Linked DNA regions of Homo sapiens. The protein of the gene in region 3 interacts with the protein of the main gene of each other region in a pairwise test. Each region holds a gene or a part of one and is shown on either strand. Other genes may lie near its edges.

What was found.
Region 1: the proteins of DDX19A (region 3) and MIF4GD interact in binary tests that used the Homo sapiens proteins (3 or more experiments, as listed by UniProt).
Region 2: the proteins of DDX19A (region 3) and CTIF interact in binary tests that used the Homo sapiens proteins (3 or more experiments, as listed by UniProt).

Annotation. Positions count from the first base shown.
Region 1 is NC_000017.11:75,262,478-75,269,605, forward strand, and holds the end of MIF4GD (MIF4G domain-containing protein), read right to left. Parts: intron 6,993-7,128; coding exon of another isoform or gene 6,870-6,992; intron 5,716-6,869; coding exon 5,606-5,715; intron 5,425-5,605; coding exon 5,269-5,424; intron 5,154-5,268; coding exon 5,061-5,153; coding exon of another isoform or gene 4,974-5,060; intron 4,491-4,973; coding exon 4,263-4,490; 3' UTR 3,751-4,262; downstream 1-3,750. Other genes in the region: MRPS7 (small ribosomal subunit protein uS7m), read left to right, coding at 20-211, 327-390, 863-1,030, 3,225-3,446. UniProt on the Homo sapiens protein: Functions in replication-dependent translation of histone mRNAs which differ from other eukaryotic mRNAs in that they do not end with a poly-A tail but a stem-loop. May participate in circularizing those mRNAs specifically enhancing their translation.
Region 2 is NC_000018.10:48,756,170-48,768,653, forward strand, and holds part of CTIF (CBP80/20-dependent translation initiation factor), read left to right. Parts: intron 1-1,749; coding exon 1,750-2,236; coding exon of another isoform or gene 2,237-2,242; intron 2,243-5,220; coding exon 5,221-5,520; intron 5,521-5,526; exon of another isoform or gene 5,527-12,484. UniProt on the Homo sapiens protein: Specifically required for the pioneer round of mRNA translation mediated by the cap-binding complex (CBC), that takes place during or right after mRNA export via the nuclear pore complex (NPC).
Region 3 is NC_000016.10:70,354,845-70,367,328, reverse strand, and holds part of DDX19A (ATP-dependent RNA helicase DDX19A), read right to left. Parts: intron 11,845-12,484; coding exon 11,794-11,844; intron 11,218-11,793; coding exon 11,082-11,217; intron 10,484-11,081; exon of another isoform or gene 10,446-10,483; coding exon of another isoform or gene 10,423-10,445; intron 5,912-10,422; coding exon 5,819-5,911; exon of another isoform or gene 5,693-5,818; intron 2,787-5,692; coding exon 2,684-2,786; intron 2,313-2,683; coding exon 2,198-2,312; intron 1,397-2,197; exon of another isoform or gene 1,318-1,396; coding exon of another isoform or gene 1,245-1,317; coding exon 1,067-1,244; intron 706-1,066; coding exon 468-705; intron 1-467. UniProt on the Homo sapiens protein: ATP-dependent RNA helicase involved in mRNA export from the nucleus.

The DNA.
Region 1 (7,128 bases), on a different chromosome or scaffold from region 3:
TCCTTTCCCCCCCTCCCAGGCTAACTCAGGTGAGATGGAGCCGCTATAGTCCTGAATTCAAGGATCCCTTGATTGACAAGGAATATTATCGCAAGCCAGTGGAGGAGCTAACTGAGGAGGAGAAATATGTTCGGGAGCTCAAGAAGACTCAGCTCATCAAAGCTGCTCCAGCAGGGAAAACAAGTTCTGTGTTTGAAGACCCAGTCATCAGGTTAGATGGAAACAAACACTTGTTACATGGACTGGGACTATCCCAGGGAGGGTTTCTGGTGAGGATTCTGTGATACAGCCTTGGAGAGCTAAACGTGTTGCTTTTCTCTTTGAAGTAAATTCACCAACATGATGATGATAGGAGGAAACAAAGTACTGGCCAGATCCCTCATGATTCAGGTAAACAGCACTTCCCTCCTCAGTCATCTTTCTTGCCCCCCTACCCCGTAGCCTTGTACTTGGTACTTTCAGTGTAGCTTAAGAGCAAATGGATTCATGTATCTATTATTCAGATTAACTTCCCTGCATGTGTACGGGCTTTAATGAAGCCCTGTAAGAGTCAGCAACTGCCATTCCTTGGTGTTTCGGAAGTAAACACACAATTAAAAAAAAAGGAACAAATAAAAAATAAAACAACTGCCATTCCCCACCTCACCCCCCACCCCCTCCATGCCACAAATCTCAATCCACTCTTTCTGTCCTAGTCTAGCAAAGGGGGAGGCACTTAAAAACTTTGTTTTGGATGTGCTGTGAGAGGAGCTGCATTGCCAGCGCAGAACCAGAGGATGGGAGTAAAGGGCAAGGTACTAGCTTGGCTGGGTAAACCCTTTAGGGAGCCTGGGGCAGCCTCTTCCACCATATTCTTTTGCAGACTCTGGAAGCTGTGAAAAGGAAGCAGTTTGAGAAGTACCATGCCGCTTCTGCAGAGGAACAGGCAACCATCGAACGCAACCCCTACACCATCTTCCATCAAGCACTGAAAAACTGTGAGCCTATGATTGGGCTGGTACCCATCCTCAAGGGAGGCCGTTTCTACCAGGTGAATGAATGGCCAGGGCAAGAAAGCAGGGCCCTCCACATGTGAAACAAGATAGGTGGTGCTTGGGAGTTGGGTCAAGATTGATAGCTTTCTAGCTGGTGCAGTGGGATTGCACCTGTAATCTCAGCACTTTGGGAGCCTAATGCAGGATAGCTTGAGCTCAGGAGTTAAGAGACAGCAGGGCAACATAGGGAGATCCCGTCTCTACAAAAAAAACAAAAAAATTAGCCAGGTGTGGTGGTGTGCATCTGTGCTCCCAACTACTCAGGAGGCTGAGGTAGGAGGATCACTTGAGTCCAGGAGGTCAAGGCTGCAGTGAGTTATGATTACGCCCCTGCATTCCAGCCTGGGCAAGAGAGAGAAACCTTGTCTCAGAAAAAAAAAAAAAAAAAACGGCTGGGCACGGTGGCTCACACCTGTAATCCCAGCACTTTGGGAGGCCGAGGTGGATGGATTACCTGAGGTGGGGAGTTCGAGATCAACAAGGAGAAACCCTGTTTCTACTAACAATACAAAATTAGCCAGGTGTGGTGGCACATACCAGTAGTCCCAGCTACTTGGGAGGCTGAAGCAGGAGAATCGCTTGAACCCAGGATGCAGAGGTTGCAGTGAGCCGAGAGCACACCACCGCACTCCAGCCTGGCAACAGAGCAAGACGCCATCTCAAAAAAAAAAAAAAAAAAAGAATTGAGACTGTTACGGTCCACTCATCTGAGTCCTGTAGCGTAAAAATTATAGGCAGAAGGTGGAAGAGAGTGAAGAAGTATCTAAGTGACATCTGGGAGCCCACCTCCCTTCGCCTTCTTCTGTCAAGCATCCTGTGTGTCCTAACCTGTAAAATTCTCATGGCGAGGGACTATTCATATCCTGTCTTTGTATGCCAGTGTTTGGCATAGTGCTTGACCGATAACTGATGCTTCATCAGTGTTTGCTGAACAGTACTAGGTATCTCTTTCATAGCATTTAATTATATTTTATTGTCCTGAGTTTTCTTGTGTTCTCCTTTTTCAATATCAACTCCATGGGGTAGGGACTTCATTATTGTCTGCACTCTCGTGTCTGGCATGGTACTGACGCATAGTGAGGGCCTGACAAATGATTTTTGGACACGGGGTCTTGTTTTTGGTTTTCTTTAACTGTTTGTATAGGGTCTTTTTGTTTTTAACTTTTTTTTTTTTTTTTGAGATGGAGTTTCGCTTTTGTTGCCCAGACTGGAGTGCAGTGCTGTAATCTCAGCTCTCGGCTCACTGCAGCCTCCGCCTCCCGGGTTCAAGAGATTCTCCTGTCTCAGTCCCTGCCCACCCCAAGTAGCTGGGATTACAGGTGGCCGCCACCATGCCCAGCTAATTTTTTTGTATTTTTAGTAGAGACAGGGTTTTGCTGTGTCTGAAGACTGAAGGGGTCTTGTTTTTAGGTACCTATGGTCTGAGGTGGATTAGTCACCCCAGCTAATGGGGCTTTTCCTATTTGGTTCTTATAACAACTTGGTAGGACTACCATTTAGGAGGGAAAATGGCCAGTGCTTTTCTTCTTTTTCTTTTTCTTTTTTTTTGAGACGAAGTCTCGCTCTGTTGCCCAGGCTGGAGTGCAGTGGTGCATTCTTGGCTCACTGCAACCTCCGTCTCCTGGGTTCAAGCATTTCTACCTCAGCCTCCCAAGTAGCTGGGATTACAGGCGCCTGCCACCACGCCCAGCTAATTTTTGCATTTTAGTAGAGACGAGGTTTCACCACATTGGCCAGGCTGGTGTCGAAATCCTGACCTCAGGTAATCCACCTGCCTCAGCCTCCCAAAGTGCTGGAATTACAGGCGTGAACCATCGTGCCTGGCCTTCTTTTTTTTTTAATATATGGAGACAGGGTCTTGTTATATTGACGAGGCTGGTCTTGAACTCCTGGGCTCAAGCGATCCTCCTGCCTCAGCCTCCCAAAGTGCTGGGATTACAGGTGTGAACCACAGTGCCGGGAGAGGCCAGTGCTTAATTAGTATTTGCTGAATGAACGCCTCTTATGTCTGCTACACTGGGGTCACCTGAAGGTGAGGGAAGCTCGAAGAAAAGACAGGCCCTTCTCCCCAGGCCTGACCAGGGCTGGTCCAGAGGGAACATGTGGCTACTCCTTAGAATTCAGGGAGGCAGGAGGCCCCAAACCCTGGCAGACTCTTGGACCAACTTGCCTATGTCCTGTCTCACCCAGGTCCCTGTACCCCTACCCGACCGGCGTCGCCGCTTCCTAGCCATGAAGTGGATGATCACTGAGTGCCGGGATAAAAAGCACCAGCGGACACTGATGCCGGAGAAGCTGTCACACAAGCTGCTGGAGGCTTTCCATAACCAGGGCCCCGTGATCAAGAGGAAGCATGACTTGCACAAGATGGCAGAGGCCAACCGTGCCCTGGCCCACTACCGCTGGTGGTAGAGTCTCCAGGAGGAGCCCAGGGCCCTCTGCCGCAAGAAACAGTGTGAGCTACTGCCACGCTGAAAACTACCTGTGGGTTAAGGATGTAGTTCCTTTGTAAGGGTGGGCAGGCCTCGTAAGAAAGATGTAGCAGCATATTCACTATCCGTTAATCCTTCTTTCTTTGAGGCTGGAACTTGCTCTCTCTGCCCCTATTTCCTTGTAAAGAGGGAGCACATTGACTTGGGAATTTCCTCCAGGAAACTCAGGGCTGTTTTCTCTTCCCTTAGGTTGGGGCGGACCTTTGGATATATAAAGGAAGCAGTTTTAGTATCAGAAAAGATTTATTAGAAAATTCTCACGCTGAACTGGTGTAGCATGTGGTGCAGCATTCAGTGAAACTGGCTGGAGGAAATAGGCTTGTTTCCAGAGTTGTCCTTATACAAAATGTATAAAAAGCAGTTTCTGGTGTGACTTGTGCTCTGCCTCCACCCCTTGACATCCCAAAATATCCCACCAGTGGCTATGCTTACCCATTTTACAGATGGGTAAACTGAGGCACCAAGGTAGTAGTTGCACTAATGGTTACACAGTGCAGTGGCTCTTGGGAGTTGCCCTTCTCTGCCTGGCCGTGGTGGGTTGTGGTGGGGAAAGGGGCTCAGGGCAGGACCACGGCATAAGTGGGAAACATCTCACCAGGAGATGGGAAAGTCTAGAAGGGAAGACACTCAAAGTCTGGAAGGGAAAAGTCTTTGGGTGAGGCAGAGACTCCACTGCCAGCTTTAGAGGTGGGTAGAAGAAAGGCCAGTGCTGGTGAGGAAGCCCTGATCTGGAGGCCTAGTCGGAGACTTCGCTGTAGTAATACTTGTGGGCAGCTGGCGTTGTCTTCCAGCCGGCCGCCCGGAACTCAATGATCTCCAGCAGCAGCAGCTGGGCCAGGGAGCTGAGGCCAGTTGGGAGCAGGAAGCCATCCCGGATCAGCACAAAGAGCTCATCCATGCGCTGCCCATTCATTTTCTCCAGCTGCTCCCCAACCCGGTGCAGCTGCAGCACCAAACAGTCCACCTGCAGGCGACAGTGTGGGTAACACAAGTGAACTGGGGCAGTGCCAGCCTCTCACACAGCATTTGCCAAGTGCCAGGTGCTGTGCTTTGCCTTTACACTCATTCCCTTGCTCCCTCCTTACCATCCAGTGGGTACTTCCACATCTTACACAGAAAGAAATGAGTTCCGGGACTTGCCTGAGGTCCCTCATCTGGCCAGGCTCCACTCAAGCCTGTCTCCAAACCACTTCTTCATCCCACTCTCCTGCCTCCCACACACTGCCTGACCCTGGTTTGGCTTTGGGGCCGTCTGTACCCACAGCTAGCCATGGCTTGCACAGCTGCCATCATACGTTGGCTTTCTGACTGAGAAGGAAGCTACTGAGCCAGTAGGTTTTGGCTGCTCTCTATTGGATAAACTCCAGACCTGGCAGCTTGTCCTATAACTGACAGGCCTTAAACACCCCCACAGTCCTGCCCCAGAAGTGACACAGTCCTCAGAGACCTCCGTGAGCAGTGGGCTGACACACGGCTGAGCTGGACTGTCCATCCTGCAGCCTTCTGTGCTTGTGCCAGGGCTGGGGCCACCCACCTCCTCCTCCTTGCTCAAACTGTCTGGCTGGGCCAGCCGGAAGAGGCAGTCATAGACAGGGTTCACCAGGGCCATCATGGGCATGTTGTTCACCTGTGAGGAAGAGGAGGGGTCAGAGCACCAGGCTTAGTGGCCAAGGGGAGCAGTCCAACCTGGGCCTCAGGAAACAGGCCATGTCTGCCTCCCAGGGTGGCTGCCGGGGCCTCACCCTCAGGTAGTCAAAGATGTTGCAGATAAAGGTGACATAGCAGACCCAGCCCTGCAGGGAGCGTGCTCGCAGCTGCTCCCGAGCCTGGTACTCCTGCTGCAGCCGGTTGAGGAGTCCACGTCGGAAGACACTCTGGCCTGCTTGTTTACTCTCTGCCTGTGAGCCAGGGAGAGGAAGGTGAAGGGTGGGGGGCGGTGCCCCTGTAACCCCACCCATCCTATGCCTCTCTCTCTCTTTGAGCTAGACCCTGTGCATCTCTGTCCTGCAGGCCAGGCCTTCTGCCCACTCCTGAAGCACCTTCCTCAAAGCAGCTTCCTTTCCTCTCCCAACCCCCAACCTGAATGATGGCGTAGCACATGCGTCCTGCTTCCTTGCTGAACACACAGTCCTGCAGAGAATGGTCCACAATCACATTGGCCACTTTCTCCAAGTCCACAGCACCCGGATCTAGGGGTAGAGATAGGAGGGGAGTCTAGAGCTGCTGCTTTATCACATTTGTGTCCACCCGCTTCTAAGAATTTGAGATATTTACAGTAGAGCACTCATATGCTTGAAGTGAAAGAGATCAGAAATCATACAGAGGACAGTGGCTCCAGTGGTGCAATTGGTTAGCGCATGGTACTTATAAGAAATCATGGCCGGGCGCAGTGGCTCATGCCTGTAATCCCAACGCTTTGGGAGACCGAGGTGGTTGGATCACCTGGGGTCAGGAGTTTGAGACCAGCCTGGCTAACATGGTGAAACCCCATCTCTACCAAAAATACAAAAATTAGCCAGGTGTGGTGGCTCGTGCGTCATCTCATGTCATCCAAGCTACTTGGGAGGCTAGGGCAGGAGAATCGCTTGGACCTGGGAGGCGGAGGTTGCAGTGAGCCGAGATCATGCTATTGCACTCCAGCCTGGGCGACAAAGCAAGACTCCGTCTCAAAAAAAAAAAAAAAAAGAAAAAAATAAAAGAAATCATACAGAGGGCCTGGTGTGGTGGCTCATGCCTGTAATCCCAGCACTTTGAGAGGCTGAGGCGGGTGGATCACCTGAGGTCAGGATCAGGAGGTCAAGACCAGCCTGGCCAACATGATGAAACCCCGTCTCTACAAAAATACAAAAAATAAGCTGGGCACGGTGGCGGGCCCCTGTAACCCCAGCTACTTGGGAGGCTGAGGCAGGAAAATTGCTTGAACCTGGGAGGCGGAGGTTGCAGTGAGCCAAGATCGTGCCATTGCACTCCAGCTTGGGCAAGAAGAGCGAAACTGTCTCAAAAAAAAAAAAGGGAAAAGAAACCGTACAGAGGACAGTAACCATACAAACAGCTTTAGCTGTCTTGTCTTCTGGTTGCCCAGTCAGAGAAAATGGGGAGGGTTATGTGGCTAGTAGGGACCAATCAAAGTAAGAATGTAGTTTCTCAGGAAACACATCTTTTCCTGGCACTAGGTTGAGGAAGGAATACTGACCAGGACATGCCTCCAACAGCAATTTCACAAGAAAAAGTGTTCTTATACTACACACATGCAAACCCCCAACAAGAGAGGGCCACATAGGGCCTCCCAACAGGCTCGGCTTGACACATGATGGGTGTTGCTAATTATTAGTTGAAGACAAACCTCTGTACTGCGTGTTACAGCGGGAAGGCATCAGGCGAGAGCAATTACTATAGCTCCTCTGGCAAACGGAATATTCTCCATCTTCTGTCTCAAAGCAGGCAACTGTGCATTCAAGAGACGGGGCTATGGCAGCACAGAAACCAGCAATTCAAATGTAAGCGCTTCAAGGGCAGGAGCCGTGTTCTTTTTTTTATGGTTAAACTTTTTTTTTTTTTTTTTTTTTTTTTTTTTTGAGACAGGGTCTCGCTCTGTAGCCAGG
Region 2 (12,484 bases), on a different chromosome or scaffold from region 3:
TAGCCACACCCCCACCCACCACTCCAGCGGAGGCCCAATGAGGGGCCTAGACAGTGACAAGGTACCCAGCACCCCAACAGGGTGGTGTCAAAGGGACTGTCATCCCCATTGGGGATAATGAGCTACTAAGCTTTTCAATGGAGGCTTTTCAGTGAAAAAAAAAATTTTATTCATTTTAGTGGAAAAAAATAATGCATTTAACCCCAACCCAGGATACCCTCAATTTTTCACAGATAAAAATGTATCAAGTAAATATTAAAATTGAATTTATATAAGTAATAAGCAATAAGTTGTAAGTAAATAAATACAATTTGTTCATAACATGCAATGCAATGAAGGTCTGTGGTACCCAAGATAGGTCACGGAGGAGGTGCAGCGCTTATTCTTTAGAAGCTAACATTATCTTTCTGCAAAATCTTTCCACTATTTTACAACCTTTGCAGAATTCATGCTTATCTTGTGCTCCAACTGCACTTCCAGTAAAGTTGTGGCATGGAAAACACCCTGAGGGTAAAATGGAGTTTGAACATAGTAGTGCTTTCAGTGGCAGGAAGCAGCCTTTGAGCCAGCCAGAAGGGTCATGAGAATGTCCCTCACCACCCCTTCACTTGCCTTTTGGCCACAACTCAAAAGTTTGGGGTTTGTTCCTGCTGCACAACTCACACCTGTTCCCTGTGCTTAGAAAGTGTTGTCAGATGAGCCTGTCTTGACCTACACCCATCATGTTAAATATTCCTTCTGTATCTGTTTGCTAGGTTGCTGTAACAGAGTACCACTGACTGGGCTGCATAAACAAGAGGCATTTTATTTTCTGACACTTCTGGAGGCTGGAAGTCCAAGATGAAGGTGTCGGTGGGGTTGGTTTCTTCTGAGGCCTGTCTCCTTGGTTTGCAGATGGTCACCTTCTTGCTGTGTCTCCATGTGGTCTTTCTTCTGGGCATGCAGCCTCCCTGGTGTCTCTGTGTGTCAAAGGTTCCTCTTGTTATAAGGCCATTAGTCAGTTCAGATTAGGGCCCATCCTAACAGCCTCGTTTAATTTAATCACCTCTTTAAAGGTGATCCATCATGTCTTATCTCCAAATACAGTCACATTCTGAAGTATTGGGGGTTAAGGCTTCAACATATGAAGTTTTGCGGGGTGGATGGGGGACACAATTTAGCCCATGAAAACTTGTTATAGCATATGTAGTTTGTGGGTTTGGGGGTGAAAATGACAATGTTCCAAAAAAAAAAAAGTTGTTTGAAAGGGATATAACTTTTCAAAAAACATTATGGTGAACAGTCATTCATAGGAAGGTGCTTGTAAGAAGCAGGTCTGCGTATGCATCTTTGCTGGTACATGCATAGAATATGTCTGGAAGATTCACACACGTGGAACGGCTGCTTCCAAAGGCCATATGTGATGACAGAGTCAGAGGCAGGAGGGTTCACTGTTATCTGCTACTGGATCTTTTTAATTTTGTTCCACATGCTTGCATTCACACATATTCTAGTAAGCGAATAAAGTACTGATTTTAAGGAAAGAATTGGCTTTGGTCCTCTGCAGTAGCAAGGACCGGTCTGCCTGTTCTCGGCTGTATCCCCAGGGGCTGTCACAGACTCTGGCACGTAGAAGGTGCTCAGGAAGTGTTTGTTGGAAGAATGAATATATGGACAAGGCAATGACTTCCTGTTCTGGCGGCTGGGCACAGGGACTCTGACCAGCCCGCCCAGTGATCGCCTTCTCTGTCTTTCCTCTTCCGTTTGCAGGCGGCAGCAGAGACCTCCGGGGGGCAACAAGCCCCAACAGCATGGTGACCACCAGCCAGGCAGTGCCAAACACAACAGGGACCACCAGAAATCCTACCAGGGGGGCTCAGCACCCCACCCCTCAGGGAGGCCCACTCACCATGGCTACAGCCAGAACCGGCGCTGGCACCATGGCAACATGAAGCACCCACCAGGCGACAAGGGGGAGGCAGGCGCACACCGCAATGCCAAAGAGACCATGACCATCGAGAACCCAAAACTGGAGGACACTGCAGGGGACACCGGGCACAGCAGCCTTGAGGCCCCCCGCAGCCCTGACACCCTGGCCCCGGTGGCTTCTGAGCGGCTGCCCCCACAGCAGTCAGGGGGGCCAGAGGTTGAGACAAAACGTAAAGACAGTATTCTTCCCGAGCGCATCGGGGAGCGGCCCAAAATTACCCTGCTCCAGTCTTCCAAAGACAGACTGCGGCGAAGGCTAAAGGAAAAGGTACCGGTAATTGAATTTTTGTTCTTCTCTTGCACCAGGGAGGACAGCAAGAGGTAGGCACTTTGGTAGGTGGGCACAGTGCAGAGCCTTGTGGGTTTGAGGGTCTAGGGAGCCATGTACAGGGAAGCAGGGGCTTCGGTCACTGTGGGGACCAACCACACTGGTCCACCACTGCCAGCAGGTAGGGCCATCATGAACCCCTCCAGCACACTTGGGCTTTTCACCTTCCAAACTCCAAGAGGCCCAGGGTGGGCACTTGGAACCAGCCCCCAGCCCAAGGGAGTAGGGGGAAGAGATGCATGCCTGGGAGTGATGGGGGAGGTGCAGGGAGCATATTCTAGGGTTAGATATTGTTTGTGCTGAAGAGCACTTGGGGAAACATGGAGCTTATGAAATAAGAACTGAAGCTTTTCTACAGGTGAGTACCATCCAGGCAGTGGTCTCTGCCAGAATGGGGAGCAGAGGTGAGTTGTTCAGAGTGGGGGCAGGCTGATTCCAGCCTTCCTGTTTCCCGCCTTCATCACCCAGAGGCCAGGGAGTGCTCTACAGTGCACACCGTAAGGTGGCTCCATTCTCAGCATCACGCAGGTGCCTACCTGTGCCAGCATGAACCCGAGAGTGAGGCCTCCTTACTTTTGCTCCCAGGAGGCTCTTTCTGCACCCTGGTCCTGGCCTGGCCTGTAGCTTCAGGAGATGACCCTAAACCTCCAGAAGAGGGATGGGGATTTGTACTTGCAGCAGTAAGTCCATTGTGCTCACCCCAGTGCCACCACCCCCGACCCCACTGCCCAGCAGGGGCACAGGAAAGGTCACCCTGGAGAGGAACTGTCCCAAGAAAGGCCAACTTGCCCACAGCCATTCCCACACAGCAGCAGGGCCTACAGAGGCTTCCTCCTGGGGCTTCCGCAGAGCTCCATGTTCTGGGCTTCTCCTCCATCCTCCCCTACTGCCGACTCTCCTCAAGCTCTTGCCCCAGAGGCCAGGCCCAGGGTCCACACTCAGGCAGGATAAGGCAGGTCAGACCTCTTCTTGGATCCACTCTTGAAGATGAGATGCTGCTCCCAGTATCCTCTCCACCGAGTCCTCTAGAGTTCTGCTAAATGTAACTGCAGGGCAGCAGAGTGGAAACAGCACGGGCTTTAGAGCGCAGCTGAGCAGGCTCAGACCTCACTTTGCCTTTGACTGGATGGGTGGTCTTGGGCAAGTCACCTAATCTCCCTGAGCCCCAGTTACTCATCTGTAAAATGGGTGTTAATACTACACACCTTGCTGAGAGACTGTGAAGGTTAAATGAAATAACGTGTACAGATATGTTCTTGTGGGTATTCCTATTCTATATGCAGACCACTGTTCCTGCCCTGGGGCCCAGATGGTCGGAAGAGAGGGGTACATGGGGGAATGGAACAGAGAAGGTAGATCTATAGCACCTATAGATCAGTTTCAAGGACTCCACTCAGGTGAGGCCTCCTGAACTCCTGGACCAAGAAGACATGGGCTCAGGCTCAGGCTGGGTCACTCCCCACTCTGCTAGTTGCTCACTCTAAAAAAGGGTAAATCCTAGGTGGCCAACCAGCCACATCCTAAACATTTTCATCAGGGAGAGCAACACTTTCCTTCTCTCTTTCAAGAGACAGGTAAAGCGTGAGATGTCTCTTGGGGTGGGGATTTGTGTCCTGTTAACTTTACCCAGGGACTCAGAGTAGCCTTCCCTGAAGAGGTGGTTGGGTTTGAGGAGAAGAACTAGGCCACCCTATTCCTTCACCCAGGATTCAGCCCTTTCTTTTTTTTTTTTTTTTTTTTGAGATGGAGTCTCGCTCTGTCACCCAGGCTGGAGTGCAGTGGCCCAATCTCGGCTCACTGCAAGCTCCGCCTCCCGGGTTCATGCCATTCTCCTGCCTCAGCCTCCTGAGTGTTTGGTTCTCAAGCCAGAGACTAGCTGCCCTTGGAACTTGATCCCACCATGGAAGGGCTCAAGGAAAGCTATAGATTTTCTCGTCTAACCTCACTGTGTTACCTATGAGGAAACTGAGGCCCAGAGAGTGAAATCACTTACCCAAAGCCACACAGCTAGAGGCAGAGAGTGGGATCTAGAGCCTTGGTCTGTGCCTTCTAGGCCAGAGCTTCTATTGTCAGGGACAGAAGACCAAGCTTGGATCTCATTTCATGACCCTGACCCTGCCCTTCCAGCCAGATCTCACTTCCTTGCAGTTAAGTTGTTCCCATTCTTGGCCACCAAGAATGAGTCAATACAATAAGATGACATTTTTTTCTTCTTCAAGCCCCTGGTCTGGTCCTAGTTGCAGTGAAATCTCATAAGGCTGTAGGGCTTTTTACTTGTAATATCCCTCCTAGAAGCCCAACTGTTTTAGTGGCACATGGGAGGATTCCTTGGTGTGTGGCATATGTCTACAGAAGACCAGCACAGTCTCCACAGGACAAAAAGCCAGGGCTGTGCCCACAGGGGGCCCTATGCCCAGAGAACAAGTCATCATTGGGCATTTGGAGCTGAGGGTGTAGGGGACAAGGTGGCCACTGCCTGGGCCGCTTTTAACCACCACTGCAGGCATTTTGGATCTGACCTGCCTTCCTGACCAAGTCTTCCTACCCTCATTTTCTCTTTGGCCCGATTTCATATTTGTTATCTTATTTCCTCTTTCATAATTTCCATTAAATCTTTTCTAGATTAAGATATTTGATGGACAAATAAACAAAAAAAGCCAATGTATATGAGAATCCTGGGTAGGAGCTAGAACCCAAAAACAGTATCAGCCCTGGATGTCATAGGGGCCAAGAAAAAAGGCAACAAGGAGCTTTTGGCGCATGAGGGGTCTTTGGTGGAGGTTCCCAGAGGGACCAGCCCTCAGATCCAGGGAAGTAGGCCTGGTCCTGCTTTCTGGGGGTGGCCACCCTCTTTCCACCAGGCCACCCCTGCACAGAGACCTCGGCTTCACTCAGGCACATTCATTTGTCTCCGACACCCCCAGGATGAAGTGGCCGTGGAGACGACCACTCCCCAGCAGAACAAGATGGACAAGCTGATCGAGATCCTGAACAGCATGCGGAACAACAGCAGCGACGTGGACACCAAGCTCACCACCTTCATGGAGGAGGCCCAGAACTCCACCAACTCCGAGGAGATGCTGGGCGAGATCGTGCGCACAATCTACCAGAAGGCTGTGTCCGACCGCAGCTTCGCCTTCACCGCTGCCAAGCTCTGCGACAAGATGGCGCTCTTTATGGTGGAGGGGACCAAGTTCCGGAGCCTGCTCCTCAACATGCTGCAGGTAACTGGACGCCGGCCACCACCGCCCCGCGCCCCCTGCCCCTCTGCGTTCGGTGAGTTATTCCTAGCGAGAAGGCTGCGAGTTCTGGCCACAGTTGGACTTTTCCCAAGTTCCGCCCTTGCCCGATTAATTATAGAAAACACAAAGGCAGTTAAGGGGCCAGGAATGAGCGGCTGGATTTGTGTGTGTTTATGTGTGGGCTCCCTGGTTACAATGGACCAATATAATTTTATAGGTGCTTTATGTTTAACCAGCCTTTCCCACTTTCTATTTTCATAAGAGGCTGGCTCTTGGTCTCAACCTGGCTATGTGCTTTGACCTCTCTACATCCAAGCAGACATGAACTTGCTGTGGACTTCTCTTTTCCTCCTCCTTCCACCCAGGGCTAGGTCCTTAGACCTTTGCAGATATGCAGTTGATCATCACTGGTAGTGAGATGGGTTTGAGTAAAGCCACACATGAGCAGAAAAGGGATAGTCTGTTTACCAACACACTATGGCTCCTGGGCAGAGGGAAGTCACGGTGATGCAAGACTGTCTTCATCCTTGCTCTTTCCCTCTTAATATCCCTTCACCTCTGACAGTGTAACCCCACCCCTGATCATTGCTTCCTCCATGAAGGCCCACGTCCAGTGGTTCTATCAGCATGAGTGTGTCGTGGGAGTAGGCGCGTGCACTTGGACGGAGCTTAGCAATGTTTCATCTCACAAGTACCTGCTTGCCTGTATGGGCAGTAGCAGATGAGCTGGTGGCCCCAAAACTGGTGACGTCAGGGAGAGATAGCAGGGTCATGGGATGGTGGCCACATCAGGTCCTGGGACTGTCCTTGGAGACTCTTGGCTGGGGGAGAGCCATGTCTCCTTTCCTCCTATTTTGTATTTTAGAGACTAGTTAAGATACAAAGTGAGTTTCTGGTCCAGATGAGATAAAATGGTAGTTTCCAAGTAATGAAGTAGAATGGCAGGCTATAGGGCCATCTTAACTAGGGTGACCATACAATAGATCATCCAAACTGCAACACTTGTGAAAGTCAAAGGGGGTTCAGTTCATAATTATGCCTAGACAACAGGTGTAAACAAGGGCATATGGCCACCCTCACCTTAACCATGTGGTTCGCAGTCTGCCGTCTTCCCTAAAAGCTGGGAGGAAGTTGCCGCTAAGGCCACCTCTACATGCAGCCGGCAGGGCTCCATCCCCACCCACCCTCTCCTCTGCATGTGAGTTGCACTCACTGCAACATGAGCCCTCCCTGGCCAGCCTGGGCTGCTTCTCTCCTGCTCCAGGCCCTGATCAGGTTCCCATTCCTGGATCGCCCGCACTCCCCTGGTGACGAATTCCCGCATTACCTGAGGGATTTGCACATGGGGCATGTTCCTCGCGGGCCGGAATGTCCTGGGAGCGTGTGGAGAGTGGCGGGCAGAGAAGCCTGTCTGCCAGAGAGCACCCGGCACAGGGGAGTCAGGGACAGCATCAGCCTATGGTCTCGGCTTTGGGTTTTGTTTTTCAAAAAAGGGCCAGGATGGGGCAAGAGTTCTAGACAGTGGTTGCCAGCTCCAAGTAACCCAGCCAGACCCGGTGGCAGACAGGCACCCAGGGCATGGGGCACTTGGGGAGGGCAGCTGGCTGCAGGGGCCATCTCAGATCGGGTATTTCTTCCAACCTGCCGTGGTAAGGGTGGCCTCACCCACAAGTGTCCAGCGGACCATCAATCCTGGGGAACAGTCAGCCACAAAGGGGGCCCTATGGCCCCTGCACTCACCTCTCAATCAACCACAACGTGCACTGGTTTAGGACAGGCTCCAGATGTCCCAGCAGGAAGGGAACCTGTTTGGCTCCGTTTAACTCAACAAAGTCCTCTGCATTCCCCAGTTAAGAACTACTTGTGGGATTAGTGTGCTGAGAGACAGTTTGGCAAACACTACAGCAGGGAAGAAAACACAAAATTGAAAGCTGGGAAGCAAGGATTCCAGACCTGATTCGTTTGTCATCCGTTGGAGCTTGGCCTCTATAGTTCCCTGGGAAAGTGCAAGCAACAGCCTTCATCAGTGTACCCTCGATTTTGCACTACTGGAGATGAGCCGGGGTCTCGGGCAGGGGCACGAGGGACCCCGTGTGAGCCTTTCCCTTTCTCATGCTCCTGAGGCCTTGCCACTAGTAGGAAACTGTCCTGGGTCCCCCTGAGTCCTCACAAACCCACTCACCCCATATAGTGGCTCCATAGTAGGTCTGTCATGAGTGATGCAGGCTTTGGGACCAGCCCAAGAGACCTAGTTCTGCAGGTGCCACCTTGTCTCTGGAGCAGAGAACTGGCACTCCACATCCTGCTCCCCACCCCCCATCAGCCAGGCTGAACCTCCCAGTACACCCTGCATGGACGAACTCTCCCCCAGAATTCACTTCTCTGTCCCACTCTGAGCATGCACCTCCCCCTGAAGCATCTCACACTCCTACTTCAGGTGGTGCTAGGGCCCCACTTTCCAGGAAACACTGGCCCTTCTCCTGTCCCAGCACCTCTCATCCTGCAGCCACAATGTTCAGTCACCCTCCTAGTATTCACTGAGTATTTCTAGTGTGCCAGGCACCAGCCTGGGGACTGAGGATACAGCAGTCAGTCACTGGGCACAGCTTTGTCCTTAAAAGGTTTGCAGTGAAGGAGTTGAACTTAAACCAATGGCCACATGAATCCACAGTGACAAACTGGGGTGCGTGCCGTTACTGCCCCCCATCTTGGGCTCTGGGAGGTGGGAACCCCTCTACTTTCTGCACCTCTGTATCCCAGGGGCTGCATAGTGCCTGGTGCTGGAGGGCCCTCGGTCGTCAAGGAGAAATGGATGTCTGAAAAGGAAGGCGCTGGAAGCCTCCCTTCTCCCGGGCTAGGGGCCTGCAGGGACAGCTGAAGTCCAGGGCAAGAAGGGAACCCCCCACCCAAGGCAGTCATGGCTCACATTCTGAGGTTTCAGAGCAGCTCCTCCTCTCCTCCCCCACAGTGGAGGAAGCCAGCCATTTGCCTGGGTGGAGTATCTGCGGGTCAGGTCTTTAGAAATCTAAATGTCCACATAGGCCACCACTCACCCCTGTTTACCACCTGCAGTCCCAGCTTTCATGTGAGCCGAGGAGGGAGCCCCTTGAGAGTATAACCAGAGGCTTGATCTGCGTTCTCAGACCTCCTGGGTGGCTAGACAAGGCCCTTTCAGCTGCCATGGGAAGGCGGGTGGACTGTGCTGGTGCGGGGCTGCCCTGATCCCACAATGGCCCCCTGACTCCAAGGCCCAGAGGACACCTGAACCACATCTGGCTGAGCCTCCTCAGGCCCTGTGCCTTCTCTCTGCAGCCAAGGAGACAGAGGTGGAGTGGGCTTTTCTGGACAGCATAATTCATGGCCCCTCACCACCCAAACCCGAGAGGTGCAAGAAAAGAAAGCGATGGGCTGGGCTCAGCAAAACCTGCTTTCCCTCTTAACACCTCCAGGGATGTCTTTTTTCACCTGACTTCATTTTCTGGCAAACTATGTTTGCATCCCTTCCTGGCAGGCAGTTCTAGACCCGGCCTGCACAGCCCTGCCCCCTGCTTCCTCCCTGAGGTTTGCACTCAGCTCCATCCACTCAAGGCCCATCTGGCTCTCGGTCCCCAACCAGCACCTGGTTGGGTTTGGCAGCCTCCGAGATGCCCCCATAGGATCAGGTTCAGCTACCACTTCCACACACAAGTTCTGGGCCCCGGCTTAGCAATGCAGGCTACAAAGGGGCCAGGGTGTGAAGTGCCTCCTTAGCACAGCTCCCAGCAGTGGTCTTTACACTTGGTTCTCCCTGGCTGACTTCTCTTGCTGCCAGGGCTTCAGTGATGGGAGCCGGCAGCATGGAGGGAGAGGGGCAACCGCAGATGTGGTAAACATTCTGCAGCAGAGGTCTGAGGGCTCTTGCCAAGCTGGGGTGCAGCCCCCATGGAGTGGGAAGTGCAGGGTGGGAGAAGGGAGAAGGTTTAAGGTCCTTTAACCCTTCCCAGCCAGACTCAACACTGCTATCTCAAGGAACCCAGAAGCACCATTCTCATGAGCCATGACAGTGCTGGAGACCTTGGGGTCTCAGAGGACCCCGTCACCAATCCCACAGCTCCAAAATGGTCTTCAGTTTTTACATCCAAGCCAATTCCTTTTTACCTGAAATGTGGCCCTTTTATTAGTAGTGTCCTTGTAAGTAAAATTCTATTTATTAAACAGACATTTCTTTTTTTTTTTACTTTTTATTTTATTTTATTTTTTAATCATTTTTTCTTTTTTTTATATACTTTAAGTTTTAGGGTACATGTGCACAACATGCAGGTTAGTTACATATGTATACATGTGCCATGTTGGTGTGCTGCACCCATTAACTCGTCATTTAACATTAGGTATATCTCCTAATGCTATCCCTCCCCCCTCCCCCCACCCCACAACAAAACAGACATTTCTTAATGTGCCAAGCATGTTGTCTTTATTAGGTCAGGGGTTCTCAAACCGGAATGTGCATATGAATCACGTGGGATTTTGTTTAAATGCAGATTCTGATGCAAGAGGCCTGGGATGGGCTTGAGATTCTGCGTTTCAAACATGCTCCTGGTAGATGCTAGTGCTCTAGTCCAGGGACCACAGTGGGAAGTCACAAGGCATTGAATGACTGATGGTTTGTAGGTGGTGGCTCTGTTTCATAGATGGGCAAACTAAGGCACAGTCTGTCATCAGTGTGATGGTCAGAGTGGAGGTCTGGCCTGGGAATATTGCATTTCAGATACTGGCTCTTCTTTAGGTCAGTGGTTCTCAGCCTCGCTATGCATGAGAATCATGAGAACACAGCAGGCAGGGGGCCTACCCCTAATCAGTTGAATTAGATTCTCCAAGGACGCAACCTGGGCATTCGTTAGCCAGGGTGGAACACCACTGTTGAGGAGACACCCCAGAGACACCGAACTGGTTCATCGCGGCCACTTATGAATCAGCTGGCTCTGCCTGTCATGCCGCGAACCAGTCAAGAAATACCTGCCAGGTGTTGGGCTCTCTGCTGAGCCATGGGGGAAAACTCCGAGTCTGAGCTGGCAGGAGAACCCCATTACACAGGAGGCCTCAGCTGCTGAGAACATGCCTTCCACTCCCCCAGCCTCAGGCTCTTCTTGTCATCACCCTGAACCTCCTCCTTGATGAGATGAAAGCCACCTCTTCTCTCCCGCTGCCTCCATTTCTCTCTGTCCTCAGCTCCTTTTCCCATTTTCCTTTTCCTTGGCCTGGGATGTGTGTCGGAACAGCTATCACATGTTTTAGGAAAAGGGCCTCATTCTCACCCACGGTGCCAGGCTGTACCAGAGGCTGGGCCACACTTCGCAGTTCAGCCTGTCTCCCCATACACCTTCCCACCAAGGTTCCCAACTTCTCTGGCTTTGCAGGGTCCTGACTGCAGACTAGACTGACTAACTAGATGATGTGCATTGATTGTTTCCGACTTCCAGGAGAATGTGGGGTGCCCAGGGTGCCTGGGTTAGAGAAGGAACCAAAAGTTTCCTTGGATCCTCATCAGGGAATTGTGGTGTGATACAGGGCGGTGAAGGGGCTCCAGTTTCACAGAGAAGTGAAGAACGAGTGTGCCTCTTTTTATGGGACCTTTGGAATGACAGGAATGGAAGCCTGAGCCCTCTCCACCCAGCACTGCCCTGTCACTGCCCCGGGACGTCCACGTGGGCTCTGGGAATGCTCCTTTGCTGAGACAGGCTTGGGTAGTACAAGTTCAAGCCCTCCTCTGTTGAAATGTGTGTGCTCTGTTTAGCCAAGAGGTGTCTGCATCCGAGCTATGCAGAGCAAAGTATTATTAGAGCCGGCATCAGTGTGTCTGTAACTGAACCCAGCTCTCCCTAGCAACCGTTGCCAACAACACATCTAACAGAAGGATGCGATACCTTTTTTTGAAAAAAAAAAGTTTGTCTCAACCAAGTCATAAACACAGCAGGCCTGTTGTGAAAAGACAACACAAAATCAGAATCTGGTGTGTGACCAGATTTCAAAATAAATTGCTCTTCTCTAGCACCTTCTAGAAGACAGCCTGTTAAAAAGCTGACCTTGAGCTAAAGAGCGGAGAAACTCTTCAGAGTTTCTGGCTGGGTCATCATCAAGCATTGTGTTTTGGGCTTTTCATACATAGACGCTCAGTTGAGTGGTGACTCTGTGGGATCTCTGGGAATGACTTTAGCACAGAAGGGGCACTCAAGATTTTCTGGCTTGGCTTTCCTTATCAGTGAATCTCTCAAGTGTGAGACAAGCCTGAAGATGTATCTTACCCATACCTCATCCTGGATGTGTGTGTTGCCCCCACTTCTACCCGTTTCTCCCATCCTCCTGCCCTTCTCCTTGTCCCATGTTTTCAGGCTTGGGAAGAAAACTGGGCCATTCCTCTAACTCTCTTCCTAAGGGGAAAACCTCGTTCTCTTGTGATTCTCTCAAGGTCTCTGGAAAATCAAGTCATTCCCCTTTGTCAGAAGTTTGAAGTTCCTAACTCTTATCTTTTACATAGGAAGGGAGGAGGGAGACTGATATCGATTCCTGGAGTCTAAGTTTTAAACTCCTAGATGGCCAGAATCCTGGCTGAGTTATCGGCTGTCCCCAGCTCCTGGCTTCATGGTTCATAGTAGATGCTCAGGAAATGGCTGTGGAAGGGAGGCATGGAGCCATCAGTCATGGGTACCAATGCTCTCTGGGGCATGAGGGGCTTTGAAACTCTTCTGAGCACTTTCCTGTGTGTGAATCGGAGGTAGGTTCCAGGGCAGGGATCCCTCCCCAGGCTTATACATGGGGAAAGTGGCTCAGTGAGGCTGCAAGATTGACCCAGCATCACGAGGCTAGCTGGAGCTTCTGGATGCCATGCCACATCCTAAATAGGGTGTAAGGCTCAAAAACTTGGGAAAATCAAGAATCCATATCATGGTTGGGAGCAATGGCTCATGCCTGT
Region 3 (12,484 bases):
AGCCTCCCGAGTAGCTGGGATTACAAGCGCCCGCCACCACGCCGCGCTAATTTTTTGTACTTTTAGTAGAGATGGGGTTTCACCGTGTTAGTCAGGATGGTCTCGATCTCCTGACCTCGTGATCCACCCATCTCGGCCTCCCAAAATGCTGGGATTACAGGCATGAGCCACCGTACCCGGCCATCTTGTTGAATTTTTTATTTTTCTTACAAATATGAGTTGATTCTCTTGGGTTGTGCAACAATACATCATCCACAAATAAGACATAAAGTTCAGGGGCTCTATCTTTAGGCTATGTATCCCTTGGGATACTACCATTACCCCCACTAAAGGAGAGCCTGTCTCTTACATCTTCAAAAAGCACTTCCCTTCTTTCCATGGCGCTCAGGGGCATCCAGTCCTCCTGAGCCCTGTGGGGAGCTGGCTGAGAGGGAGGGGCCAGGCCTGCCACTGCCGCTGCTACTCACATGGCAGAAGATCATGGCTTGAGCAATGGTGATGGCCCCGTAGAGGTTACACAAGGCCTGGAACTTCTCGTCTCTGCTGCTGCACAGGACATAGTACTGCTTGATGGTATCCAGGGTCTCTTCCTCACGCTTCAGTTTGATAACATTTGGGTCTGGGACCACTTTCTGGGCAAACTTCCACACAGAGTCTTCAAAGGTGGCGGAGAAAAGCAGCATCTGGCAGTTCCTGGGCAGCATCCTGCAAGGGAAGGCCCGGGTAGATGGCCCCAGGTGGCCCTGGGAAGCAACGGAAGCACAGCCTCCCCAGCTGGGAGGGTCTAGATGCCCAGGAAGGCTGATGGGGGAGGAGCATCTTGGGGAGGAGGAGCAGCAGGCCTGGGATGGGGACAAGGGTTGGGGAAGAGTCCCTAGGTCTCCTTTCTCAACCCAGGTTGGGAGGGACTGTGATCAGCGCTGACATGGAAATGGCCCGTCAAACAAATGCTGCTGAGAGTACGAGAGCCAAGACCCAGGCAGAAGCCAGAGGAGGCGTCTGAAGTGAAGGGAGAAGACACTGCAGATGGGGAGTCTGAGGAGTCCCCCACCCTCGAGATCCCTACCTCTGGATGCGGATGCTCTGATCTTGGTGGCCCTGAGTGGCTATCATGACATCAGCCTCATCCAGAACAAACACCTTGATTTTCTTGGGATCAATGAACTTGAGCTTGGAGCACCAGTCCAGCACGGTCCCAGGGGTGCCAATGACAATCTGCTCACTGATCTTCTGGCCTCTTTCCACTGTGGAGACCCAGGTGATTTTCATAGGTATTTCAAAGGCAAAGCCAGCTCTGGAAATCAAAGCCCTGCCCATCCTTCTAGGACTAGGAGAACAAGTTATTTCCAGATTTCAAAACACACATGAGTGTTCCCCTCAGTCTTGGTCTCTTCTGCTGTGAAGTGGGCAGAATGACACCTATCTCAGTGCACTGTGGTCAGGATCAAATCCCACACAGCAATCCTTCAATAAGCATCAGTTCCCTTCTTCTTCCTCCTATAATCCAACATCATCCAACTCTTTTTATGTTTATTTATTTATTTATTTTGAGACAGGGTCTCACTCTGTTGCCCAGACTAGAGTGCGGTGACACAGTCATGGCTCACTGCAGCTTTGACCACACAGGTTCAAGCGATCCTCCTGCCTCAGCCTCCCAAGTAGCTGGGACTACAAGCTGGCACTTCCACGCTTGGCTATTTTTTTTTTTTTATTTTTTGTCTTACTATGTTGCCCAGGCTGGTCTCGAACCATGTGCTCAAGCAGTCCTCCCACCCTGGCCTCCCAAAGGGCTGGGATTGCAGGTGTGAGCCACTGTACCTGGTTTTGCTTACTTTTAAAGAAAGGGAGCTGACCCCAACCTTCCATCCTCAGTCCTGTTAATCCCTCTTTGGTAGCAGGTCCCAGAACTCTGGACGCTAAATTCAAAACTCTACCTTCTGAGCGAAGAACTCTAGATATTAAGAACTCTGTGAGCCATGCGTGGATTTTTTTTTTTAATCAACCGAAAATCTTATTTTAAGACTGAAAAAGACTGTTAACAAATTAGCAGGTATTCAAATAGATTCAAATAGAGCAACACAGTTAGGCTCCAGGGTCAGACTGAATTAGAAAGTTGAATACGGTCATCGCATCTTCAAAATTCAAACGCCCAACCCCCTACCCTGCTCACTGTTCAGTTGTCGCCTGCCGTACTCACATTTATTGCCTCGAACGGCATAGGCAAGCTTCAGTTCTGGGTAAAATTTGCCCATCTGCTCAATCACTTTTCCTGTTTGAAGCGCCAGCTCATATGTTGGGGAGAGGCACAGACACTGACAGAAAAATCATAAAGGATGAGTTTAGGAGAGCCATTTGGTAACAGACCTGAAGGCACCCAGTATGCTGATGTTATTAGCACTTGAATAGCACAGGGAAGCATGTCCTCCCATCCAGGCCCACCTTTCAGCCATAGACTGAAGCCTGCAGCAGGTAGCCCTGGCTTGGCAGAGGCCTTTGCAAGCCATGGTCTAAGGCTGCTGCTTTCAAGCACATTCTCCCAGGTCAGGGCCTGGTGTAGGAACTTGCTCTGCCTGAGCCACAGCCTAAGGTGTCAGAAGCTTCAGACCTCTCGTTACTCCTCACCAGATGGCACTGCGCTCCCCAGGGCAGGCAACCTAGGACACCCAGCCCCGCAAGCCCTCACCTGGGGGTATCTGTCTGATGGCTCCACTCGGCTGAGCATGGCTAAGACAAAGGCAGCTGTTTTACCAGTGCCAGACTGAGACTGGGCAATCAGATTCTGTGGGCTGGATCAAGGAAGAACAGAAATGAAACTTAAATTGGTGAAACTCAGTAACATGTCAAAATGTTCTTTCTGAATGAAAGGCATATTTCCCCCTTCGTGCTTCTCTATATTACCCAGGTTTTCTCCATTGAGCACAAATTACTTTCATACATTTTTTTATACGCTGTTAAAAAGCTGCTTAAATTGTAAAATAAATGATTATTTTAAATGGGCTCACACCAAGAAATTCTCATTCTAGCCTCTAGCACAGCTAAAGGACCCCAGTTTTGCACCCCAAGGGGCACAGGGAAATCAAGTGTGCAGAGTAAGATCTGTGCCCAGACAAGACCCCAGCAATATTTTTGGCTGAGCCATGATGCATTCCCAGAATTTGGTTCCTTCTGTGTGTGCCTTTCCCCAGTTTTATGGACAAGATGCTAAGTCAGGTGGATGTTTTAGAGGGAACTTTTACATTCCATTTTATGGGACCCAGCATCATGGGAATAGGTGGCATGGTTGTCATTAAAAAAGATAAATATGGCTTACGCCTGTCATCCCAGCACTTTGGGAGGCCGAGGCAGGCGGATCACAAGATCAGGAGATCGAGACCACCCTGGCTAACACAATGAAACCCCGTCTCTACTAAAAATATAAAAAATTAGCCGGGCGTGGTGGCGGGTACCTGTAGTCTCAGCTACTGGGAAGGTTGAGGCAGGAGAATGGCATGAACCTGGGAGGCGGAGCTTGCAGTGAGCAGACGTTGCGCCACTGCATTCCAGCCTGGGCGACAGAGCGAGACTCCATCTCACAAAAAAATAAATAAATAAATAAATAAATAAACTAAGGTGGGCAGATCACTTGAGGTCAGGAGTTCGACACCAGCCTGGCCAACATGGTGAAACCCCACCTCCATTAAAAATACAAAAATTAGGCTGGGTGCGGTGGCTCACGCCTGTAATCCCAGCACTTTGGGAGGCTGAGCCAGGCAGATCACGAGGTCAGCAGTTCGAGACCAGCCTGGCCAACGTGGTAAAACCCCATCTCTACTAAAAATACAAAAATTAGCCAGGCATGGTGGCAGGCACCTGTAATCCCAGCTACTCGGGAAGCTGAGCCAGGAGAATCACTTGAACCCGGGAGGCGAAGGTTGCGGTGAGCTGAGACCGCGCCATTGCACTCCAGCCTGGGCAACAGAGCGAGACTTCATCCCAAAAACAAACGAACAGACAAAAAAATACAAAAATTAGCCAGGTGTGGTGGTGTGCGCCTGTAATCCTAGCTACTCAGGAGGCTGAGGCAGGAGAATCACTTGAACCTGGAAGGCAGAGGTTGAAATGAGCCAAGATTGCACCACTGCACTCCAGCCTGGGCGACAGAGGAGACTCCATCTCAAAAAAGAAAAAATGATAAATATGCCAGGTGCAGTAACACATGCCTATAATCCCAACACTTTGGGAGGCTGAGGCTGGAGAATCACTTGAGGCCAGGAGTTTGAGACCAGCCCTGGCAACATAGTGATACCCTGTCTCTACAAATTTTTTTTTTTTTTTTGAGACAGAGTCTTACTCTGTCGCCCAGGCTGGAGTGCAATGGTGTAATCTTGGCTCATTGCAACCTCTGTTTCCTGGGTTCAAGCGATCCTCCCACCTCAGCCTCCCTAGCAGCTGGGATTACAGGTGTGCGCCACCAAGCCCGGCTAATTTTTTTGTATTTTTTGTAGAGACGGGGTTTCACCATGTTGGCCAGGCTGGTCTCAAACTCCTGACCTCAAGTGATCCACCTGCCTCAGCTTCTCAAACTACAAAAAAGTTTTTTTAAAGTCAGCTGGGCATGGTGGCACATGCCTATAGTCCCAGCTACTCCGGAGGCTGAGGTGAGAGGATTAATTAAGCCCAGGAGGTCGAGGCTGCAGTGGGCTGTAATTGCACCACTGCACTCTAGATGGGGAAACAGAATGAGACCCTGTCTCAAAAGGAACTTAGTCTTGTCAGGGTGGGAGAAGGATGTGGAAGGAGGGGAATTCAGGGGCTTCAACTATCAACTGGACCTGCTTCCTTTCTTGGCAGGATAGGGCTACAGAGGTGTTCTTGGTATTGTTCTTTACACCTTTGTGTAGGTCTCAAAAATTTCCAAATAATATTTTGTTTGTTTTTGAATTTATTGCAACACCATTCACATCAAAATAATATTTTTTAAACCCAGTTTTTTTTTTTTTTTTTTTTTTGAGACAGAGTCTATGTTTCCCAGGCTAGAGTGCAGTGGCATGTCTCGGCTCACTGCAACCTCTGCCTCTGGGGTTCAAGCAATTCTCCTGCCTCAGCTACATGACCACAGGTACGTGCCACCATGCCAGGCTAATTGTTGTATTTTTAGTTTAGTTTTTTTTTTTTTTTGAGACAGGGTCTTGCTGTCACCAGGCTAGAGTACAGTGGCACCATCTCGGCTCACTGCAACCTCTGCCTCCCGGGTTCAAGCAATTCTCCTGCCTTAGCCTCCTGAGTAGCTGGGACTACAGGCACATGCCAACAGGCCTGGATATTTTTTTTTTTTTGATTTTAGTAAGACGGGGTTTCACCATGTTGCCCAGGCTGGTCTCGAATTACTGAGCTCAGGCAATCCGCCCACCTTGGCCTCCCAAAGTGCTAGGATTACAGGTTTGGGCCACCGTGCCCAGCTAATTTTGTATTTTTAGTAGAGACAGGGTTTTGCCATGTTGGCCAGGCTGGACTCAATCTCCTGACCTCAGGTGATCCGCCCGCCTCGGCCTCCCAAAGTGCTAGGATTACAGGAGTGAGCCACCATGCCCGGCCTTAAGCCCAGTTTTTAAGATAGCATGGAATAAAGCACTACCTTTCTCTATAAGTTTCTATTGTTAAGTGGGAAAGGCAGAAACTGTAGCTAACTCCATCCGATTCTCTCTGCACTTGCCTAAGCTGTATTCCTGAGGAAACACGTGGCCCCAAACAGCTCCTTCTGTTCTCAGGCACAAAAACGCAGTTTGGGGAAGATTGATCTAATCACACTGGGTGAGATGCGCTTCATCTGCATACTCACGGTTCAGCAAGCATCATGGGTAATGCGTTCTCTTGTATCTTGGAGGGTCGATTGAAGCCCATGGCATAGACTCCCTGGAGAAGCTGTGGTTTCCTAGGAAGCCAGGAAGACAGAGGATGGATGCCTAGAAGTTAGAATTGTTTTAGAGGCCTAGAATCTTATCTTTTTCTATAGAAAGGAATGATGCCTCCTACCTCTGTCAGACGTATTTTCCTATGCCTTAAAAAAACACTGTCAAAAACCAAACCAAATCAAACCAAGCTACCGCCCTTCCCTAAGGAATCTTAATCTGCAACTATTCTATAATTCATAAAATACAGAATGGTTTCTTTTCTTAGAGAAATTAATGCTTTCAGCAGACCCGCAAATCTGGCTGGCCTTGGAAGACAAGTGTTCCCTGGACACAGCAAGGGTGGTGGTTATTAATTCATAGCATTACATAAATTATAAAAGATATATCTAAAAACAGGTCAGGTACAGTGACTCATGCCTGTAATCTCAGCACTTTGGGAGGTCAAGGCAGGCCAACTGCTTGAGGCCAGAAGTTCGAGAACAGCCTGGGCAACATGGTGATACCTCGTCTCTACAAAAAAATACAAAAAATAGCTGGACACACCTGTAGTCCCAGTTACTCAAGAGGCTGAGGTGGGAGGCTCACTTGAGCTCAGGAGGTCAAGGCTGCAGTGATCTGTGACTGAGCCACTGCACTCCAACCAGGGTGACAGAGTGGGACTCTAAAGTAAATAATAAATGAAAATAAACACTATTTACTATACTGCTAAGATTTAGAAGTCCTTTTGTTCCATGTTCCTTCCAAAGCCAGCTATGCAAATACTCCAGACAATCAATAGGTAAGGAAATTGATGGGCTGGGCGTGGTAGCTCACGCCTGTAATCCCAGCACTTTGGGAGGCCTAGGTGGGACGACTGCTTGAGGAGTCCAGGCGTTCAAGACCGGCCTGGGCAACACAGTGAGACCCTGTCTCTAAAACAAAACAAAACAAAACAAAACAAAAAAGAAAAATGAGCTGGGCATGGTGGCATGCACCTGTAGTCCTAGCTACTTGGGAGATTGAGGCAGGAGGATTGCCTGAGGCTAAGAGTTAGAGACTATAGCGAGCCATGATTGCCCCGCTGCACTCTGGGCTGGGCAACAAGGCCAGGTCATCTCTTAAAAAAAAAAAAAAAAAGAAAGAAAGAAAGAAAAAAGAAAAAAAAAATTTTTTTTTTTGAGATGGAGTCTTGCTCTGTTGCTCAAGCTAGAGTGCAATAGCGTGATCTTGGCTCACTGCAACCTCTGCCTCCTGGGTTCAAGCGAGTCTCCTACCTCAGCCTTCTGAGGAGCTAGGATTACAGGCGCATACTGCCACACCTGGCTAATTTTTGTATTTTTAGTAGAAACAGGGTTTCGCCATGTTGGCCAGGCTGGTCTTGAACTCCTAATCTCAGGTGATCCACCTGCCTCGGCCTCCCAAAGTGCTAGGATTACAGGCGTGAGCTGTAGCGCCCGGCCATAAAAAAAGAAAATTGATGAAGCCAGTTTCTAGTAGCTGATATACAGTAAATAAAGGTGGTTCGATTAACCTACTAAACTTTACAAATGCTCAGATTCACTTAGGTCTAATCAAAATAAACAGACAAACACTAACTACTTCTTTCTGAGAGACGTTCTCACTCTGTCGCCCAGGCTGGAGTGCAGTTGTGTGAACTGGGCTCACTGCAACCGACACCTCCCAGGCCTCAAGAGATCCTCCCACCCTTGAGTAGCTGGGGCTGCAGGCACATGCCACCACACCCGGCTAATTTTTTTTTATTTTTTGTAGAGATAAGGTTTCACCATGTTGCCCAGGCTGGTCATGAACTTCTGAGCTCAAGAGATCCACTCACCTTAGCCTCCCAAACTGCTGGGATTACAGGCGTGAGCCACCGCACCTGGACACCAACTTCTTATGTAAACAGCTACACAAGAATTATCAATTTAAGTTGCTCTTACATTGCATTTACAATCAGCTCTCTGCTACCTCTAAATTGACAAGATGTTTAAGAAAAATCATACCAGATTGTTTCTAAAGAAAAGGCAACCCAACTGTTCTCTAAGCCTTCCTTGGAGTTTAGCAGGCTCTCTAAAAGGCAAATTCTCTGGCGTATGTTGGTTCTCAGACACAAAGAAATTTAAAAACATAATCTTTCATATCTTCCATTTGGGAGAAAATGCTGTGACACTCGGCAGCTTCTGACTTGGTTGCCAAGGAAACAAAGTCACTACCTTAATTGGGACTCAAATGATCCAACAGCTTCCACTGACTCAGTTTTCTTTGATTTTGCAGATTAACTCAAATATTTTAGGTACAAAGCAGACCAAGTACATTAGGTGATCTTGGTTTCATTCTTTGTTTCCTTTTCCTACCAACAACTAAATCAGAGAGAACCTGTCTTTTACAGAGGACAATTCATCAGTGGTTAAACTGAGAGCTCACGTCTTCTAAAGGGAAGAAATTTAAAAAGGCAGTTGATACTTGGAGGAGCAAACTGTCACTCTAAGGAAATCATACCACATGTCTAGCTGTCCTGATACAGCTTAAAAATAAAAGTGGAGATGACAGATTTGGTGAATAAAGTCCTTGACAGAGAAAACACATAGAAAAGCATAATTTCCGTTTGAGAAGGAGTTTCGCTTTTATCTCCCAGGCTGGAGTGCAACGAACGGCATGATCTCGGCTCACTGCAACCTCCGCCTCCTGGGTTCAAGCAATTCTCCTACCTCAGCCTCCTGAGTAGCCGGGACTACAAGCCATGTGCCATTACAGCCGGCTAATTTTTTTGTATTTTTAGTAGAGATGGGGTTTCATCATTTTGACCAGTCTGGTCTCGAACTCCTGACCTCAGACAATCCACCTGCCTTGACCTCCCAAAGTGCTGTGATTATAGGCGTGAGCCACCGTGCCCGACCTAAAGTATAACTGTTTAAAAATACATTTTTGGTCTGGCCTGGGCAACATGGTAAAACCTCATCCTATTAAAAAAAAAAAAAAAAAGTTATTGGGCCAGGTGCAGTGGCTCACACCTGTAATCCTAGCAATTTTGGAGGCTGAGGCAGGAGGACTCTTTGACCACAGGAGTTCAGGAGCAACCTGGCCAACACAGTGACACCACATCTCTATTTTTAAAAATAAAAAAATAAGGCTGGGTGCAGTGGCTCATGCCTGTAATCCCAGCAGCCTGGGAGGTTGAGGCGGGCAGATCGCTTGAGGCCAGGAGTTTGAGACCAGCCTGGCCAACATGATGAAACGCTGTCTCTACTAAAAATACCAAAATTAGCCAGGTGTGGTGGCTCAGGCCTGTAATCCCAGCTACGTGAGAGGCTGAGGAACGAGAATCGCTTGAACCCGGGAGGTAGAGGTTGCAGTGAGCCAAGATTGTGCCACTGCGCTCCAGCCTGGGCAACAGAGTGAGACAGTCTCAAAAGTAAATAAATAAATGAATAGAAATAAAAAATAAAAATAAAAAATTGTTCTTCAAGATTACTTAACAACTAGTTAGCTTTCTTGTTTTAAGTGTCTCTTTCTCAGTGGTAATAGCTGGAAGGAATGTGGCTTCAATTTGTCCATAGTGGCCATACTATAGATTTTGCTGAACTAAGGCAAAGAATCCATTGATTCCACCATATTCTTATTCATCAGCTACTTTCTATGATTGTGATCCTGGCAGGCAGCAAGAATAATAAGTAGGTCTTGTGTTCCTTGTAACATCCAGCACAGTGGCATGTATATAACACAATGATCCACACTTAATCCTCTATTAATTTACTGAAGTAAACCTAAAACGTAAGGCCGGGCACAGTGGGTCATGCCTGTAATCTCAGCACTTTGGGAGGCCGAGGCGGGCAGATCATGAGATCAGGAATTCGAGACCAGCCTGCCCAACATAGTGAAACCCTGTCTCTTCTAAAAATACAAAAATTAGCTGGGTGTTGTGGCACACGCCTGTAGTCCCAGCTAACTCGGGAGGCTAAGGCAGGAGAATCGCTTGGACCTGGGAGGTGGAGGTTGTGGTGAGCTGAGATCACGCCACTGCACTCTAGCCTGTGCAACAGAGCACGACTTGGTCTCAAAAAAAAAAAAAAAAAAAAAAAAAAAAAAAAAAAACAAACCAAAAACAGATTTGACAGATTTTTTAAAAAGCAGATAAACTGTAAGACTGTAAACCCTATAGTCTAAATATACATATATATATATATATATTTTTTTTTTTTTGAGAGAGAGTCTCGCTCTGTTGCCCAGGCTGGAGTGCAGTGGCACGAACTTGGCTTACTGCAACCTCCGCCTCACAGGTTCAAGTGATCTCCTGCCTCAGCCTCCGCCTCCTGAGTAGCTGAGATTACAGGCCTGTGATATCACACCTGGCTAAGTTTTGAGTTTTGTATTTTTAGTGGAGACAGGGTTTCACCATGTTGGTCAGGCTGGTCTTGAACTCCTGACCTTGTGATCTGCCTGCCTTGGCCTCCCAAAGTGCTGGGATTACAGGTGTGAGCCACTGTGCCTGGCCTTTTTTTTTTTTTTTTGTAAAAAAAAAACAAATAGCACATGTTCTCACTTAAGGGCTTACCTAATCAGAAATGTTCCTGACATCCAGAAATCACCTGTCAGCCAATATTTTATTGAAAGTTCTAAGAGTATAAGAGAAATAAGACTTTTAGCTATGATAAATCAATTTGAAGCATTAAAAAATTCCTACCAAGAGAACAGGATAGCCAAGGACACAAGGGTGGGAGATTAATACTGCAAATTTTTTCATACTTTTTGACTTTTGAATCATGTGACTTATTCATGTGACTTCTTTTCAAAGAAAAAAAATAGCCAGGCACGGTGGCTCACGCCTGTAATCCCAGCACCTTGAGAGGCCGAGGCAGGCAGATCACCTGAGGTCAGGAGTTCAAGACCAGCCTGGCCAACATGGTGAAACCCCGTCTCTACTAAAAATACAAAAAATTAGCTTGACATGGTGGTGGGCGCCTGTAATCCCAGCTACTTGGGAGGCTGAGGCAGGAGAATCGCTTGAACCCGGGAGGCAGAGGCTGCAGTGAGCTGAGATCACGCCATTGCACTCCAGGCTGGGCAACAGGAGCGAAACTCTGTCTCGAAAAAAAAAAGGAAAAAATACACTAAATTTTTAAAAGTAAAATTCTCACAAGAATCTCTCAGATGCTAAGTTTTATGTGGGGAGAGACTGGCAACGAAGAGCTGTTGAAAGGAGCGAATACTCACAGCCGAAGCTCTTCAAACGACTTCACCGAGTACAGAGGGGAGTTTGGATCCCGTTGCAGGACTTCCACTTGGTTTGTGTTATCAACAAGGTTGCTTCTGATCAGCTTGTTGAGTAAGGACTGGGCAGCTCTGTCCTCTGTCAGGAAGAAACCAGTAGATCTTCATACTCATCTGGCAAACCCCAGGCTTATGAAGCCACTCTTTCTCCCTCTCCACACTAGCACCTGGGCAGTCAAGCACGGCTGGAGAAAAACCATCACACTGATAGGTCTCTATTTATTTATTTTAGAGATGGGGTCTTGCTGTCACCCAGGCTGGAGTGCAGTGGAGCAATCAGAGCTCACTGTAGTCTAGAATTCCTGGGCTCTGGCAATCGTCCCACCTCAGCCTCCCAAGTAGCTGGGAGTACAGGTGTGTGCTACCACACCCAGCTCATTTTGAAATCTTTTGTAGAGATGGGGTCTCAGTATGTTGCCCAGGCTGGTCTTGAACTCCTGGCCCAAAGGAATCCTCCCACCTCGGCCTCCCAAAGTGCTGGGATTACAGGTGTGAGCTACCGCTTTCGGACTTGTTTTGTTCTCCTCCTCTCACTGACTATTCCTTCTCTGATTCCTCTCATCTCCTGGATCTTGTAGCTTGGAGTGCCCCTGGCTCCAGGAAGGCAAGCCCTGGGTCATACCGTCTCTTGCCAAGGGCATCCAAAAGTAGTTACCTTTCTCCTCTTCATCTGTTTTCTCGGCAGTGGTACTGGTTTTGATAATACCTACACAAGAAAACAATTGTCATAATTAGAAAGGCAAATATGAGAACCACCAAAAATGTGGGACAATATAAATAAATACACTGAAATTTATTTTATTTTTTTATTTTTCAGACGGAGTTTTCCTCTTGTAGCCCAAGGCTGGAGTGCAATGGCGCAACCTTGGCTCACTGCAACCTCCACCTCCTGGGTTCAAGCAATTCTCCCGCCTCAGCCGCCTGAGTAGCTGGGATTAGGCACGCACCACCATGCCTGGCTAATTTATGTAATTTTAGTAGAGACGGGGTTTCACCACGTTGGCCAGGATGGTCTTGAACTCCTGACCTCGATCAAGTGATCCGCCCACCTTGGCCTCCCAAAGTGCTGGGATTACAGGCGTGAGCCACAGCGTCCAGCCTGAAAAGTTATTTTAAGTAATCAAAATATAAATAGTTGGCATTTCTTTATGTTTAGTGAATTTTTATTTCTAGAAATTTTTTTTTTTTTGAGACAGGGTCTCCCTCTGTTGCCCAGGCTAAGGTGCAGTGGTGCAATCATAGCTCACTACAACCTCAACCTCCTGAGCTGAAGTGATCCTCCCACCCCAGGCTCCCACTTAGCTGGGACTACAGGTGCATGCCACCACATCCTCCTGCCTTAACCT